2 separate regions of the Homo sapiens genome follow, and region 2 is linked to region 1. The links come from fine-mapping of genetic effects on gene expression. Tissue or cell type: whole blood. Region 1 holds a variant in brackets; the other region holds the start of a gene. All regions are shown on one strand. Distances are from middle to middle. Region 1 overlaps GCH1 (GTP cyclohydrolase 1). Region 2 holds the start of GCH1 (GTP cyclohydrolase 1).

Region 1 (8,339 bases):
ATCATTAGCTGAGTGAAAATACAGTGCCTTCTTTGTGACAAAATAAGGAAATATAGAAAGAATATAGTACACTTTTATGTAATTTATCACGACAATGTATTACCTTGAAAACATCTGGAACTGTTAAGACTTAGAAAATGAAACATTTATATATGTATTTTTAAAATTACATAAATGCAGTAAAAGCAAAATATATAAGTATGAGTCTATTAATCAAATAACAAACTTGTACAGTTGTCCGTTGGTAAATGCGGGAGATTGCTTCCAGGACCCCTGTGTATACCCAAATCCTGCATACTCAAGTCCCGCAGTCGGCCCTGCAGAACCTGCATATATGAAAAGTTGCCCCTCCATCTATACAGGTTTTGTATCCTGCAAATACTGTAGAATTTTTGATCAGTGTTTGCTTGAAAAAGAGCCATGTCTAAGTGGACCCATGCAGTTCAAATTCATGTTGTTCAAGAGTCAATTGCATGGCCCTGACACTTACCTGTGAAGTTGAACTCTTGACACAAATCTGAAAGTTTCTTCTTTATGGAGGAGAAACATTCTCAAGGAAAGGCAAATGATCTCATAGCAACACTAAAATGTATACAGGAAAGCCTCCTTTAAATGGCAAAAACTGTAAGCATAAGTATTGCCATTCCACACATCACAGCAGCCTTAAGATCCCACCTCACAGCCTTAAGATCCCACCGCAAAGCCCTGCAGCACAGAAGGTCTCCACACCCTTTTGTGCTTGGCTTCCTGGTTTCTAAGCTGCTAGAGAGTGCACCATCTTCCTTTTTTTTTTTTTTTTTTTTGAGATGGAGTCTCACTCTGTCGCCCAGGCTGGAGTACAGTGGCCCAGTCTTGGCTCACTGCAAGCTCCGCCTCCAAGGTTCAAGCAATTCCCCTGCCTTAGCCTCCTGAGTAGCCGGGACTACAGGCGCCTGCCACCACACCCAGCTAATTTTTGTATTTTTAGTAGAGATGGTGTTTCACCGTGTTAGCCAGGATGGTTTCGATCTCCTGACCTTGTGATCTGCCCGCCTCGGCCTCCCAAAGAGTTGGGATTACAGGCGTGAGCCACCACGCCCGGCCCCATCTTCCTAACTGGAGAAAAAGGGCACTGCTACCACCATGGCTTGGCAAGAACCTGCACCCTAAGAACTAAGTTTTAAAGGACCCAATATACAGCCAGGCCATTTCTGTTATCTTAAATGGCACCAATTAATATCAAATATAAAAGTTACTCTTTTGGGGCCAAATACTACATACGAAAAACATTAGTTCTCTGAAAAGATTAATAGAGTAAATGGTCACTTGTAGGCAATTAATTAACCGAATATAAAATTAGAGACTCAACGGCATCATGGTTTGCTAACACTGTTTTCATTGTTCACTTACTATTTACATAATTGATCTAGTAGTACTTAGTGATTTTTTCCCCCATCCATTGGCACTATGCTTTAGGAATTTGAGAAGTCCACCTCATTGCCTTCCTGGTTGGCAGGAGGAAAAAGTAAAATAGCACCTGAACATTGAGGATTTCAAAGAAAAATTAGAGAGTTAAAACTTTCCCATGAACCAAGGTCTTCTATGCTGTCTGAAATTTTTACATTTCCATGCAGACACGGAATTTGTTCATTGTTTATACTATTTTTGGTCTTAAGATCCTAGGTAATTTAAATGTCCATTTCACAAAATCACTAGATAGGCCAGGAGTGGTGGCTCACACCTGTAATTCCAACATTTTGGGTGGATTGCCTGAGGTCAGGAGTTCAAGACCAGCCTGGCCAACATGGTGAGACCCCATCTCTACTAAAAATACAAAAATTAGCCAGGCGTGGTGGCGGGTGCCTGTAATCCCAGCTATTCGAGAGGCTGAAGCAGAAGAATTGCTTGAACCTGGGAGGCGGAGGTTGCAGTGAGCCGAGATCGCACCACTGCACTCCAGCCTAGGCAACAAGAGCGAAACTGTCTCAAAAAAAAAAAAAAAATCACTAAATAATATATTTTTAAAACAAAGGTAGCAAAAACACAAACACTGAGGAAGTAATAGCAGAAAGTAACAGGATAAAATGGTGACAGGCTGAGTACAGAATCAGTGCCTTGGATCTGGCTGCAGCCAAGCCACTAACTCTCTCTATCCTCTTGAACAAGTCACAGGCTTTCTGTGCCTAATTTGCTCACCAATAGATTCCCTTTCAAAGATTCCTTCATTATCAATTGCAGGATTTCCAGATACGATATGGCTTCTGATGTGATGTATCTGGGTTTTCTGATTGCTTTCTCTTCTTTTCTTTTTAGAGACAAGGTCTTGTTCTGTCACCCAGGTTGGGGTACAGTGGCATGATCATAGTTCACTGTAACCTGAAACTCCTGAGCTCAAGCAATCTTCCTGCCTCAGACTCCCAAAAAGTAGCTAGGACTACAGGTATGCACCCACCATGCCCAATTAATTTTAAAAAAAAATTTATTTTGTGGTAGAGACAGTCTCACTTGCTGGTCTTGAACTATTGACCTGAAGCTATCCTCCCACCTTGACTTCCCAAGTCGCTGGGATTACAGGCATGAGCCACCTCACTCGGCCCTGATGTGATATAATATGAAGTCTTCAGCACCCTTATGAAGCACTACTCTTTTTTTTTTTTTTTTTTTTTTTGGACACGGATTCACTCTCTTGCCAGGCTGGAGTGCAGTGGTGTGATCTCGGCTCACTGCAGCCTCGACCTCCTGGGTTCAAGCGATTCTCCAACCTCACCCTCCCGAGTAGCTGAGACCACAGGTGCATGCCACCATGCTAGCTAATTTTTGCCTGTTTTTTTGTTTGTCTGTTTGGTTGATTGGTTTTCGTTTTTTTTTTTTTTGGTTGGTTTTTTTTTTTTTGGTAGAGACAGGGTTTTACCATGTTGCCTAGGTTGGTCTCAAACTCCTGAGCTCAAAGCGATACATCCACCACCTGCCTTGGCCTCCCAAAGTGTTGAGATTACTGACGTAAGCCACCGTGCCCAGCCCTTACGAACTACTTTTATCAGAAATGTTTAGCCCTAGTCTTATGAAACTTTAGATCTAATCTAGTTTATAGGAAATCCAGAGGCTGAAGGAAACAAATCTGGAAGGTGGGGCACTCTGCTGAACAGCTGGCCTATTTTCTTTTCAGTAGAGAATGTTATGGGTGGGAGCACTATTTTAGAACAAAAGGGACTTAACAGGTATAACCAAATGCAATGTAAATACAAATGTGTGACTCTCCCTTGGATTCCTGTTTAAACAAACCAAGAGTAAACATTTGAGACAATTGGAGAAATTTAAATATGAATTCGTTATTAGACACTATTTAAGAATTATTGTTAATTTTGTGATAGTGCTGCTGTGGATAAGTAAGAAAATATTTTAGGGCCAGGTGCGGTGGCTCACGCCTGTAATCCCAGCACTTTGGGAGGCCAAGGCGGGCGGATCACGAGGTCAGGAGATCAAGACCATCCTGGCTAACACCGTGAAACCCCTTCTCTACTAAAAATACAACAACAAAATTAGCCAGCATGGTGGCAGGCGCCTGTAGTCCCAGCTACTCAGGAGGCTGAGGTGAGAGAATGGCGTGAACCCGGGAGGTGGAGCTTGCAGTGAGCCGAGATCACACCACTGCAATCTAGCCTGGGCGACAGAGCGAGACTCCGTCTCAAAAAAAAAAAAAAAAAAAAAAAAAAGCATGCACATGTACTCCAAAAAAGTATTGACAGCAGTATTGTTTGTAATAGCAAAAAAAAAAAAAAAAAAAAAAGAGGCAACAATACAAA[G/A]GTCCACCAAGAGCAGAATAGATAAATTGTGGTATATTTGTACAATGGAATAAGATATAACAATGAAAATAAACTACAATGACAGGCAATGACATCAATGAATCCGACTATGTAGAACAAGAGAGGCCAGACACAAAGAGTACATATCGTAGAATCTTTCCACTTACATATAGTTGAAAAACAAGAAAACGAATCCATAGGGTTATAAGTTGATAAACTGATACAAAGGATGGATTAGGGATTAAGAAGAGAAAAGAAATGAGGTGAGCTTCCAGGATGCTACACATATTGTAGTTGTGGGGGTTTCGTTGTTGTTTGTTTGTTTGTTTGTTTGACAGGGTCTGGCAGTCTGGCTCTGTTGCCCAGGCTAGGATATAGTGGCGCAATCTCGGCTCACTGCAACCCCTGCCTCTTGGACTCAAGCCATCCTCCCATCTCAGCCTCCCGAGTAGCTGGCAGTACAGGCATGCACCACCATGCCCAGGTAATTTTTATTTTTATCTTGGTAGAGATGGGGTCTCACCATGTTGCCCAGGCTGGTCTTGAACTCCTGGGTTCAAGCAATCCACCTACCTCAGCCTTCCAAAGTGCTGGGATTACAGGCATGAACCACCGTGCCAGCCTATTCTAGTTCTTGATCTCTGAAGTGGTAAGGAACACCCTTAAGTTTTATGCATTTTCTATCTATATATTATTTCCATAAAAAAGTGAAAAGATACAATACTTTAACAAAGACAAAAATGAAGCAAATGTTAACACTTTAACTTTAGTTGATGGGTATATAAGTATTCATAACACTGCTTCTTGTAAGTCTTCTGTTTAAAGATTATTAATAAAGAGTCAAAATTAAATAAAATTATGATGGGGGTAGGGAAATGGGACAACTCTTTGTTCTATACCACATGTTCTCAAAGGTATGTTAAGTAGTCATTCCTAGACAACATCTAATAACTAACTCAGATTTAAATTCCTCCAATTGTCTCAAATGTTTTACTTTTGGTTTGTTTAAACAGGAATCCAATGGAGAGTCACACATTTGTATTTACACTGCATTTGGTTATACCTCTTAAGTCCCTTTTGTCCTAAAATAGTGCTCCCACCCATAATATTCTCTATTGAAAAGAGAATAGGCCAGCTGTTCAGCAGAGTGCCCCACCTTCTGGATTTGTTCCATTCAGCCTCTGGATTTCCTGTAAACTAGATTAGATCTAAAGTTTCATAAGACTAGGACTAAACATTTCTGACAAAAGAAATTCACAGAGGTGCTGAGGAATCTAATGCATTAGATTCACTTTTCCTAATATAGAAAGGAATGGAAACAAATCCACAAATACCATAACCTCTGTCACAAGAAATTCTGCAATTATTGTTGCTCATGACATGCCATACATACATATCTATCTTGGATCAAACATTATTCAAGTTAAAATAAAGGGCATCTCTAGATTGGGATGCTAATAATAAATAAATAAAGGTTAAAGGTTTTCAGAGCCTGTAGTAGCTACAAAAAAAAAAAAAGAGAGAGAGAGATGCTACTTAAACCTCATTATTTTAACCTATGAACCTGGTATTTAACATGAAAGGCTTATCCTGAGAGCCTTCTGCTACTTTGGTTTTGTTTTTTAAGTTTCAAGTTATTAGTCAGGTTAATAAAGAATAACCATATATGTATAATTGTAAATACCTGAGATATCAGCAATTGGCAGCTAAAAATTTTAAATATAATTATTCTAATTGAAAAACTTTCACTATGTTTTAAATTGCTGGGAAACAACAAAGAGAACCTTACCTTTCCAACAAATGGAACCAAGTGATGCTCACACATGGAAAACATGTCTATGTCCTTCACAATCACCATCTCATCATGATCTTCATCAAATATAGCATCGTTTAGGACATCTGAAATCAGAGGCTTGCTTTAGTAACATGTCCAATTTTATAGAAAGGTAGAATTATGGATAAACATGAATAGACAGTCAACATAAACGAACGTTAATCCTCCCTAAAATATTAAGGGAATACAAATTAAAACTAGATATTTTTCCTTATCAAAGTAGCAAAGTCCTTTTCTGTAAGTAACATTTAAAAATCCTTGATACAGTGTTACATGAAAAATGCAGGATTATGAACATATTTGCAGTATGGAAGAGGAAGGAGAACGGAGGGAGGAAAGGAAAAATTATACCAAAATAAAACAGTGGCTATTTCTGGCAGTAGAAATGGGCCACTTTCACTTTCTTCCTTACATTTTCTTCTACTTTATATTTTGTCTATAATCAATATGTAGAAAACCATATCTGAGAAAAAGACTAATCCTTAGCCCTCTGACTTCTGAGGCCAGATCCAGACACCTGTAAACCTGACCTCTATTATCAATTCCCCAAGTAATTTTCTACATTTGTAAAGTGTTCTATATATTGTAGGCTAGCATCAGACTTATTCTAAACAGTTGCCTTCCTAAGGAAATAAATCCTACAGTTTGTGTGTATATGCCTCTCTGGGAAGGCTTTGGAAGATAAGCAGTGTCTTGTTTAAGCTGTGGACCCTGGCACTTCCAGCCAGACATACAATAGACATTAAAAAAAAAAAAAGCTTTATTTTTAAAAATTGCACTGACTTATCCTCAACTATGCTATGTGCAAAAGAAAAGATTAATCAGATGATGCCTGAGAGCACTCTGAGCTTCCTAACATTCGGTGACTGCAAGAACATCCTGTCCTGGATGCTGAAGAGGGATAGAGGGAAACAAGCCACATTCCCCACCAATCATAATATAGCCAAGCTATTGATAATAGGCAGGTACCCAAACAACATTGTAGATAAATGCCATATGACATGGAAACTTCTTCAGCTATATTGTCAAATGAGAAAAGAAGCTACAAAGAAATACAGTAGGATTTCATTTTCGGAAAATAAATATAGACATAGAAAAAAACTGTACTGATACCTAGACAGCTTGGCAGACTAGATATAATAAGACACGTAGCTGAGTAATTTCAAGGATTTGGGGGATATGCAATATACATAATAGAATTAGACAGAGAAGGGAAGGGATGTATTAGAGCTTTGCACCTGCAGCTCTTTCCCCTCAGAAAGGCAGGCGGCTGAGTGAGTCACAGGAAGATGGACAAATGTCCACCCACACTGCCTGACCTTCAGTGGCTCCACTGCTACTAGAATAGGGGGCTCACAGAGACCAAGTCATCACGTAAACCACAGTTATTACCCCAAGTCAGGCTATTCAGAGATACATTTGACTGTGTCATAGAAAAGTCATTAGTGTGGTCAAGAAAGGCGAACATGGCAGGGTTAGACACATACAGACAAACAGAGACACCCCTGGTAGAAGTGGCTGATAACATCCCAGGAGAAAAAGGCGCAGTGTCACTCACTGAGTATTTCTTCTACCACAGCACTTTTCTATGCTGAATATTCTGCCCTACCTTCAGTCTTATTTCTGAAAAGAAGACCAAAAATAGATCCTTAATGTTTCCAAAAGTTTCTTGGATTTCTCCCCAAGATTTTAATATGGTATGATTGCCACATATAGCTTACTAAAATCTTTAGTCACACAAGATATATTCCTGGAAGGAAAAACAAACCAAAAAAATGTCTTAAAGAAAAAACAAGAGAGAAGCATTAAATATAGGAAGCATTTGTTTTCTCTGGCAAAGAATGAGAGCGTCCCCATCCTAAGCTCTGACGACAACCATATGGCCCATGTTAAAGTCAGCCCTTCAACTCAGGCGAAGTGAAGAGCTGGCTCCAGGCTGGGTGCAGTGGCTCATGCCTGTAATCCCAGCACTCTGGGAGGCAGAGGTAGGTGGATCACCTGAGGTCAGGTGTTTGAGACCAGCCTGGCCAACATGGTCAAACCCTGTCTCTACTGAAAATACAAAAATAAGCCAGGCGTGGTGGTGCATGCCTGTAGTCCCAGCTACTCGGGGGGCTGAGACAGGAGAATTGCTTGAACCCGGGATGTGGAGGCTGCAGTGAGCCGAGATCATGTCACTGTACTCTAGCCTGGGCAAGAGAGAACAAGACTCCGTCTCAAAAAAAAAAAAAAAAAAAAAAAAAGATCTGGCTCCATCACTTACTAGTTATTAGGCCTTGGGCAAGGTACTCTGTACCTCAGTCTTCTCGGCTATAAAATGAGCATAAAGTGCCTGCTTCACAGGGTGTCATGAGGATTAAATGGGCACATGTGTTTAGAACTATGCAGGCGGAGCAAGTGCTAGTTATTGTTATTACTATTATTATTACAATTAAGATTGAGGGAGCTGCAAAGCTATGTATCTCCCATGCATATTGAGGTACATCAAAATTTAAAAAGCAATAATTTGCCTTAACAGAGTACAGAAAAGGAAAAATAGTAACTTGGTGGAGAAACCTGGCAGAGGCTACCTTAACCAAATGATTAAGGTTAACTTTGCCAGTAACAGGACATACTGACATCAGGTAGCTCCTGATAGGACACCATGAGAAGGGCACATCACCTCTGCGGTATTCTTCCCAAAAATCCATAACTGCAGCCTAATCATCAGACAAATCTAGGGA
Region 2 (8,339 bases), 38 kb after region 1:
CCTCTCTGCCTCAGTTGCCTTGTCATGGGGATAAGAGAAATGTTTACTTGAAAACTGGAAGATGAACCAAGACCATCCAACGTAAAGCTTTTAACCCATTAAAAAGTACGGTCATGCATTGCTTAACAATGGGGATACATTCTGAGAAACACCTGAGAAATGCAGTTTCATATCGCAAACACTGAAGGAAGAGAGTGCTAACACAAACCTAGATGAGATAGCCTATTACACACCTAGGCTACACGGTAGAGCCTATTATTCCTAGGCTACAAACCTGTATGGCATGTTACTGTAATGAATGCTGCAGGCAACTGTAACACAATGGTATTTGTGTATTTAAAGATATGTAGGCCAGGTGGGATAGCTCATGCCTGTAATCCCAGCACTTTGGGAGACCAAGAGGAGAGGATCACTTGAGCCCAGGAGTTCGAGACCAGCCTGGGCAAAACAGTGAGACCCTGCCTCTATATTTAAAATACAAATAATAATAATTTTAGAAAGACATCTAAACATAGAAAAGGTACAGTAAAAATATAGTAGAAAAGACTTAAGATGGTATGTCTGTGTAGGGCACTTACCATGAAAGGAGCTTGCAGGATTGGAAGTTGCTCTGGGTGAGTCAGTGAATGCATGGTAAGTGAATGTGAAGGCCTAGGACATTACTGTACACTACTGTAAACTTTATAAACACTGTACACTTGGGCTACACTAAACATATTTTTTCTTCAATAATTTCAGCTTAATGTATTTAAAACTTTGACTCTTTTGTAATAACACAGCTTAAAACAAAAACACATTGTACAGCTGTGCAAAAATATTTTATATCCTTGTTCTATACCTTTTTCTATTTTTAATTTTAATTTTTATTTTTATTTATTTATTTACTGTTGAGACGGAGTCTCACTCTGTCAACCAGGCTGCAGTGCATTGGTGCAATCTCGGCTCACTGCAACCTCCACCTTCTGGGTTCAAGTGATTCTCCTGCCTCAGCCTTCCAAGTAGCTGTGACTACAGGTATGCGCCACCACATCTGGCTAATTTTTACATGTTTAGTAGAGATGGGGTTTCAACATGTTGGCCAGGCTGGTCTCTTTCTAACTCCTAACCTCAAGTAATCCGCCCACCTTGGCCTCCCAAAGTGCTGGGATTACAGGTGTGAGCCACCATGCCTGGCCCAATTTTCTTAATTTTTAAATTTTGTTAAAAACTAAGACATGGGGGAGACGAGAGGAAAAAACTAAGACACAAACAAACACATTACTCTAGGCCTACACAGGTCAGGATCACCAAGACATCACCAGACAATGTGAATTTTTCAGCTCCATTGTAATCTTATAAACCACCTTCATACATGTGGTCCATCATTGAAGGAAACATCATAATGTAATGCATGATTATATTCAATTAATGGCTTATAATAATCTTAAATGGGCTGGGTATGGTGGCTCACACCTGTAATCCTAGCACTCTGGGAAGCCAAGGCAGGCAGATCCCTTGAGCTCAGGAGTTCAAGACCAGCCCGGGCAACATGGCAAAAACCCGTCTCTATCAAAAATACAAAAATTAGCAGGGCATGGTGGCACAAGCCTGTAGTTCCAGCTATTCAGGAGGCTGAGGTGGGATCACTTGAGTCCAGCAGAGTGAGACTGCAGTGAGCCGAGATTGCGCCACTGCACTCCAGCCTAGGCAGCAGAGCCAAACCCTGTCTCAAAAACATGAAAATAAACATAATAATAATAATCTTAAATGGTCCGCTCCATGGACTTTTCTTTTCTGAAACAGGGTCTCCCCACGTTGCCCAGGCTGTTCTCCTGAGCAACAACTATCCTCCTGCCTCAGCCTCCCTAGTAGCTGGGACTGCAGGCACGCCACAAAACCTGTCTTTATATTGTGGTAAAATATATATAAAATTGGTCATTTTTAGCCATCTTGAAGTTACAATCCAGTGGCATTCACAATATTGTGCAACTATCACCACTCTCTAGTTCCAGAACATTTTCATGACTCCAAAAGGAAGCTCCAAAGGAAGCTCCATACTCATTAAACAATCACTACCCATCCCCCTCTTCTCGCCAGTCCCTGACAACTACTAATCTTGCAGTGTCTCTACATCCATGGACTTTTTTTTTTTTTGAAATGGAGTTTAGTTCTTGTTGCCCAGGCTGGAGTGTAATGGTGCGATCTCGGCTCACTGCAACCTCCGCCTCCAGGGTTCAAATGATTCTCCTACCTCAGCTTCCTGAGTAGCTGGGATTACAGGCACCTGACACCATGCCCGGCTAATTTTTGTATTTTTGGTAGAGAATGGGTTTTCCCATGTTGGCCAGGCTGGTCTCGAACTCCTGACCTCAGGTGATCCGCCCGCCTCGGCCTCCCAAAGTGCTGGGATTACAGGTGTGAGCCACCGCGCCCGGCCCATGGACTTTTTAAATAGTAAAACTTGACCAGAACAGTTTTTTTGTTTTTTTTGTTTTTTCTGGAGACAGAGTCTCCCTCTGTCGTCCAGGCTGGAGTGCAGTGGTGCAATCTCGGCTCACTGCAACCTCCTCCTCCTGGGTTCAAGTGATTCTCCTGCCTCAGCCTCCCGAGTAGCTGGGACTACAGGCGCCCGCCATCACACCCGGCTAATTTTTTTGTATCTTTAGTAGAGACGGGGTTTCGCCATGTTGACCGGGCTGGTCTTGAACTCCTGACCTCAGGTGATCCGCCCACCTCGGCCTCCCAAAGTGCTGGGATTACAGGCGTGAGCACCGAGCTCGGCCAACCAGAACAGTTTTCTAATGTGGAATGATGTGTTCTTTGCAGTTATTAATCCTCTTTAAATGAATCTTCGCTCATGAGATATTTCAGCTAACCATTTCTCAAGTAAATCTGTGAGTCACTTTAGATAATTCTGTGACCTGTCTCAGGGTCAGAAATTCCTCTCTCTTTGGGTAATTAGATCCATGCTAGATTACAGAACACTGTCCTATGAATTCTCTTTAAGGGAGGATTCCCAAAGCCTGGCCGATGCTGTGAAGTAAACCACTTTCTGTGTCTGCAAGGGGCAAAATGAGTAAGGCCTTAAGAAGACATTTCATTACATTGTGAAATATCTCACACACACACACACACACACACACACACACACACACACACACAAATTTAAAGCCCTAGACCTCCAAAGAGCTGATCCCACAGAAAACTGAAAGTTTATTTTTCAGTCTTTGTATTTTGAAATCTCTTCTGAGATTCCAAACTTTTGCAATTGAGGGGTAAAAAAAAGTGAATTTGGAAACAGAACTAGAAGTCACTGCCGGTTTTAGAGTGTAGCATCATTTCCTTTTGGGGCCCCGTCTCTTTCACATTCTGATTTCCCACCCTTCCTTTGGGGTGTGGAAGACTGGGCAAAAAATAACTTTCTTTTTCCCAGGGTCTATTTGGTGGAATCGCTCTACACTCCTTCAGAGAAATAACTGGGGCAGGGAGATTGCCTTTCCAGCGCACTGTTTTTCTTTCAAAAAACAGTGAACGGTAGAATGCTTCTTAGGGCAAATAAATAAATGTCACCAAGACACACGGAAGGTGTAGACTGGAAAATAATGTCTTTGGTCCCAGCTGTAGAAGCCAGAAGCTTTATTTTTTTAAACACAGACCAATACTGCTTCTCTGGCCAACAGGCAGCAAAGTCCCCATTTTCCACTCTCCATCACCCCATCTTGCATCCTACCCACACTGATTGCATCCCCACCCTCTGGGTGAAAAGCCGACACGCCTCAGACGCTAACAGCACCGGGTCAACCCGGCTTTATTTTAGGGTGGGAGGGTGCGGGGATGAGACTGAGTCCTGGAACCCACGGAGCCCTCCGAATCCCGGAGTAGCTTTACTGCTTTTTGCGGGGTTGGGGGTGGGGGGAGGAAACAGATTTCAGCAGCAAACTCACCCAATCAACCTCACACCTCAAACTCCGGGGAAGCCCGTGCCCAAAATTGTGCCGAATTTTGTAAATGTCCTGAACTGGAGTAAACTTGAGGTGGACAAAAAAAAAAGCACAACTCTAAGACTCCGATCCCCTGGCAAATCAGTGGGAATGCAGGTCCCCGAGGTTTCGGGGAAGGATCGCGCCGAGGCTTCAATCCAGATACACACCCTGACAATGGGATCTCAATAAGGAACTACCCAGGAAGCCGTCGCCGCAGCAAGTGCCCAGGTGATCCTTATCGTGGGCAAGTTTGGAACCGCAGGTACCCCGAGAATCCCGCGCTGGGCGCTCAGGCGAGAGGGCTCCGGGCTCCCGTCCACGCCCACCCGGGGCGTTCTAGGAGGGCTGCGCGCTGGGAGCGGGAAGGGCCCCTGGAAGGCGGCTGCAGCGAGTTCCGGGGCTGAGAGGTCGCTGCCACCCAGGAAGCCCCGACTGTGCCCCACGCAGGGCCTCGGCAGGGCGGCAGGCTAGGGCGGGTTCGGAGGTGACAGCGCCCGGCTTCCTGCGCCAAAAGTGAGGCAACTCCGGAAACTTCCTGGAGCCGGCGCGCGTTTCCTGCAAGCACCGCCCCCGCCGCCCGCACGCTCTAGCAGCCCGCGGGCGCACTGACCTGAGATGGTCTCCTGGTAGCCCTTGGTGAAGAACTGCATGGCCGAGGCCGCCCTCCAGGGCGTCTTGAGCAGCCCTTGCCGCTGGGGGTTCTCGCCCAGCGAGCTCAGGATGGACGAGTAGGCGGCTGCCAGGTTAGGGAGGTTCAGCTCGTTATCCTCCTCGCTGCGGGGCCGCTCGCCCTTCCAGCCGTCCGCGGGCTGCGCGCTCTTGGCCTCGGGCCGCGGGGGCTTCTCCGCCGGCCTGCTGGGCCCGGGCCGCGGCGGATCCCGCTCGGGGAACCCATTGCTGCACCTGGCGCCCCGCGGCTTCTCCGCCGGTGCCCGCACAGGGCCCTTCTCCATGGACCCGCCGCAGCCGCTGCCGTTCGGGAAGGACCCCGGGGCGCTTCGAGGTCTGCGGCTAAACTCCGCCGGTGGCCGCGGACAATGGGCTGTGGCCGGAGTCACCTGAGGAAGGTACGCAACCTGCTTAGATCACACTCCGAGCCGGGAGCGGCCACAGGCTGGAAAGCCCGGCCGCGCCTCCTTTTTATGGCCCGGCGGCTCAGCCTGCGCCGCGGAGCGCTCCCATTGGCCGGCCCCGCCTCGCGTCACGGCCCTCGCCGCGCCCCTCGGCCTCCCGCCCCCGGGGTCCCCAGCAGGGGTCGCGGCTCCGGAGACGCCCGGAGGGGTTCGCAAGCGCAGGGAGGGAAGGAAAAGGGCGCCGGCCCCTAGGATCAGGCGGGACCCCTCCACTTATTGCGGAATGAGCCGAACCCGAAAAGAGGCAGTCGTCCAGGAGCTGGGATCTCAGTGAGAAAGACGCGGTCTGGGCGCCCAGTCGCCCCCTCTTCAGGCCAAGAGGGCGCTGCATTGAAGGGCTCCGGTCCCCTCGCCCTGTGAAAGATCAGCAAACAGGTGGCCTTGCCTGGAGAGAGACCGAGTTAAGCCACCGATTAGGAACCAACTCTTAAGCTTTCAAGGCAAGAGAATAATGTGACTTCAGACTCTTGGGTTTAGTTAAAAACGCACCTGCCACCTAGGGGCCAGGTGGCACCGCTGTCGGGGCAAGTGTCACATCAAGTGGCCCTTATGTGGGTCCCTATGTCTAGAAGGATAGGATTTATGGTTGCTAGAACTTTGATCCTGGAAAAATTGATTTGCAAACGAAGATAGGACTTTCACTTAAAATCCATTTCCGTCGGTGGCTCACGCCTGTACTCCCGGCGCTTGGGGAGACCGAGGCGGGAGGATCGCTTGAGGCCAAGAGTTCGAGACCAGCCTGGAAAACATAGCAAGACCTCATCTCTATAAAACCCATCGCATTTTCTAGAAACGCAGTTGTGCAGATTTGGTGCTCAATTGTTTTACAGTTCCATGCAAAGCGTCTTTCCCCAGATGTTGGTACAAATTGTGAAATGCTATTCACCAACTGAACTCTTAACCAGTGACATCTGCTGTAACTGTTTTCTTTGAGATTAATAAATGGACCTTTTTCCTCACTTGAGGGATTATCTCATAATGCCGAAGGTGAGCTTTAAAACATGTATCAAAATAATATTTTTTTTCTTTTTTTTTTTTTGAGGCTCACTTCATCCTCCGCCTCCTGGGTTCAAACGATTCTCCTGCCTCAGCCTCCTGAGTAGCTGGGATTACAGGCACCTGCCACCATGCCCGGCTAAATTTTTGTATTTTTAGGAGAGGTGGGGTTTTGCCATGTTGGCCAGGCTGGTCTCGAACTCCTGACCTCAGGTGATCCACCTGCCTCGGCCTCCCAAAGTGCTGGGATTACAGGTGTGAGCCACCATGCCTGGCCTAATGTAGATTTTCTGACATAGAAGCAGGTATTAATAGGCTTAGGATCAAACAAACCAATAGGGAAGCCTGTGGAATTATTCTATGCTAACAATGTAGCTTGGTCATTATAATAAGTAATTAGTATTTATGATACATCTGCTCTAGGCGCAGCCCCGTTGGAAACATTCAGGAAAGAAATATGGACATTGCCTAGCCTTGTAGGCACCTTTACTCCAAAATGGAAGAAATGTTCATATCAGTGGGGTTATTTATTTATTTATTTATTTATTTATTTATTTATTTTTAAATTTTAATCTATTTATTTAAGAGCGGGTTATGAGACTGGCTAATTTTTGTATTTTTGGTAGAGATAAGGTTTCACCATGTTGCCAAAGCTGGTCTCGAACTCCAGGGCTCAGGATTATAGGCCTGAGCCACCGTACCCGGCCCAGTGGGGTTTTTAAATAGAGAATATGAACATCCTTTGGAAAACCTCTTTGTCATTTTCCTCTTTATTAAAATTTTTAAATTTTTTATTGTAGGTTTTTATTGGGAGTGGGGCCCTGCAACATTTTTTTCCTCTAACTGTGCTGCCCACTGTCTGCTGATACCTCCTGGTCAGAATTATCTGCTGGGTCTCAAGCTATTTCAAGCATAGTTGAAGACAACATTCAAAGGATGACCTTGCATTTAACAAATGAAAACAAAGATACTAAGTGAGGTACTTTAAAAATGGAGAGAGTAGATAGAGATGCTTTCAGTACGAATTTATTTTTAGTGGCAATCTTTCGTCTTCCTTTAAAAACATGTGTAAAGATTAACTAATATTGTATTCCACAAAGACAGTTTCTAATGAAATTTTTACCCTAAAAATTAACATTTTCTTACACGTATTGCCACTGAGGCACCTGCACCTTTGTTGCAGGACAGGGCCTCTGGATACATGCTAACTTGTAAAATGGAGGCAGTGCCTTTCGGCCAAATGCCCAAAAATAATACAAGAAAACTTTGAAATCACCAACATTATATGAATAATTTAATAGTAAAATGTAGATAGTTGACAAGGATGGTTATAAGTAGCAACAGGAGAAAAAAAGAGGAATAAACCAAAAGGGAAGTAGGTCCCAGATAATTTATTAGCATAAAATGGTTCAACAGTAATATTATGAGCATTTACAGCCAGGAATTGTTACCGCATCCATGTTTTTCACCCAGTAAGGGATTCATTTTCAGCTTGGACCCAGTCTGGGAGTTTCTTTCTACCAAAAAGCCAAGGAATTTTTTAAAGTCTCTAATTTCTAGGACAGCAGCAGAACAAAGAGGCAGATGAGAAAGACACACCAAGTCAGAGACTGAACACTGCAGTGCTACAGAAATGTACAAAGAGTTGTTTGCCAAGTGTGATATGATGATACATGTATATGTAGGTTTTCAGCCATAGTACCTGGTTCATAACTCACAGTCTTTTGTTACAATGTTGGGGCACTTTAGGCCTCAGAAAATAGAATCAATCTCTCTCTCTCTCTCTCTCTCTCTCTCTCTCACCTTCTGCTCCCCTTCCACTCACTAAAGGCAGGACTCTAATCATCTCCCGCCTTTCTGATTACGGATCATAAACCCTCATTGCAAACAGGGTCCTGCCTCATACCCTGGAGGAAGCATGGCTGCACAGAGAGGTCAATCACACCTTGACACGGCTGTCCATGCTTCAATCATGCCTATACAACGAACATAAAAGGCCCAGACGGCAGGGCTCAGGGAGGTTTTGGACAGCTGAATATGTGGAGGTTCCTGGAGGGTGGTGTGCCCAGGGAGGGCATGGAAACTCCATACCTCTTACCCCATACCTCACCCTATGCATCTTTTCATCTGTATCTTTTGTAATATCCTTCATAATAAACTGGTAAACGTAAGTGTTTCCCTGAGTTCTTTGAGTCACTCTAGCAAATTAATTGAACCCAAAGAGGGGGTTGTGGAAACCCCAACTTGA

The links. PIP is the estimated chance that this variant, and not a neighbour inherited with it, causes the effect.
Region 2: GCH1 starts here. The variant in region 1 is fine-mapped to the expression of GCH1 in whole blood (TOPMed, PIP above 0.99).

What each region holds. Positions count from the first base shown.
Region 1 is chr14:54,859,756-54,868,094 of GRCh38, forward strand. GCH1 (GTP cyclohydrolase 1) reads right to left here. Exons shown (of 6, transcript NM_000161.3): 2 at 5,572-5,681. Among named protein-coding and RNA genes, the nearest start is that of MIR4308, 14 kb to the right of the region's middle. The variant G/A (reference allele first, on the strand shown) is at 3,783.
Region 2 is chr14:54,897,749-54,906,087 of GRCh38, forward strand. GCH1 (GTP cyclohydrolase 1) reads right to left here and starts at 5,078. Exons shown (of 6, transcript NM_000161.3): 1 at 4,573-5,078. The coding sequence starts at 4,915. RefSeq lists an enhancer at 1-163 and silencers at 4,263-4,322, 4,333-4,382, 4,793-5,432.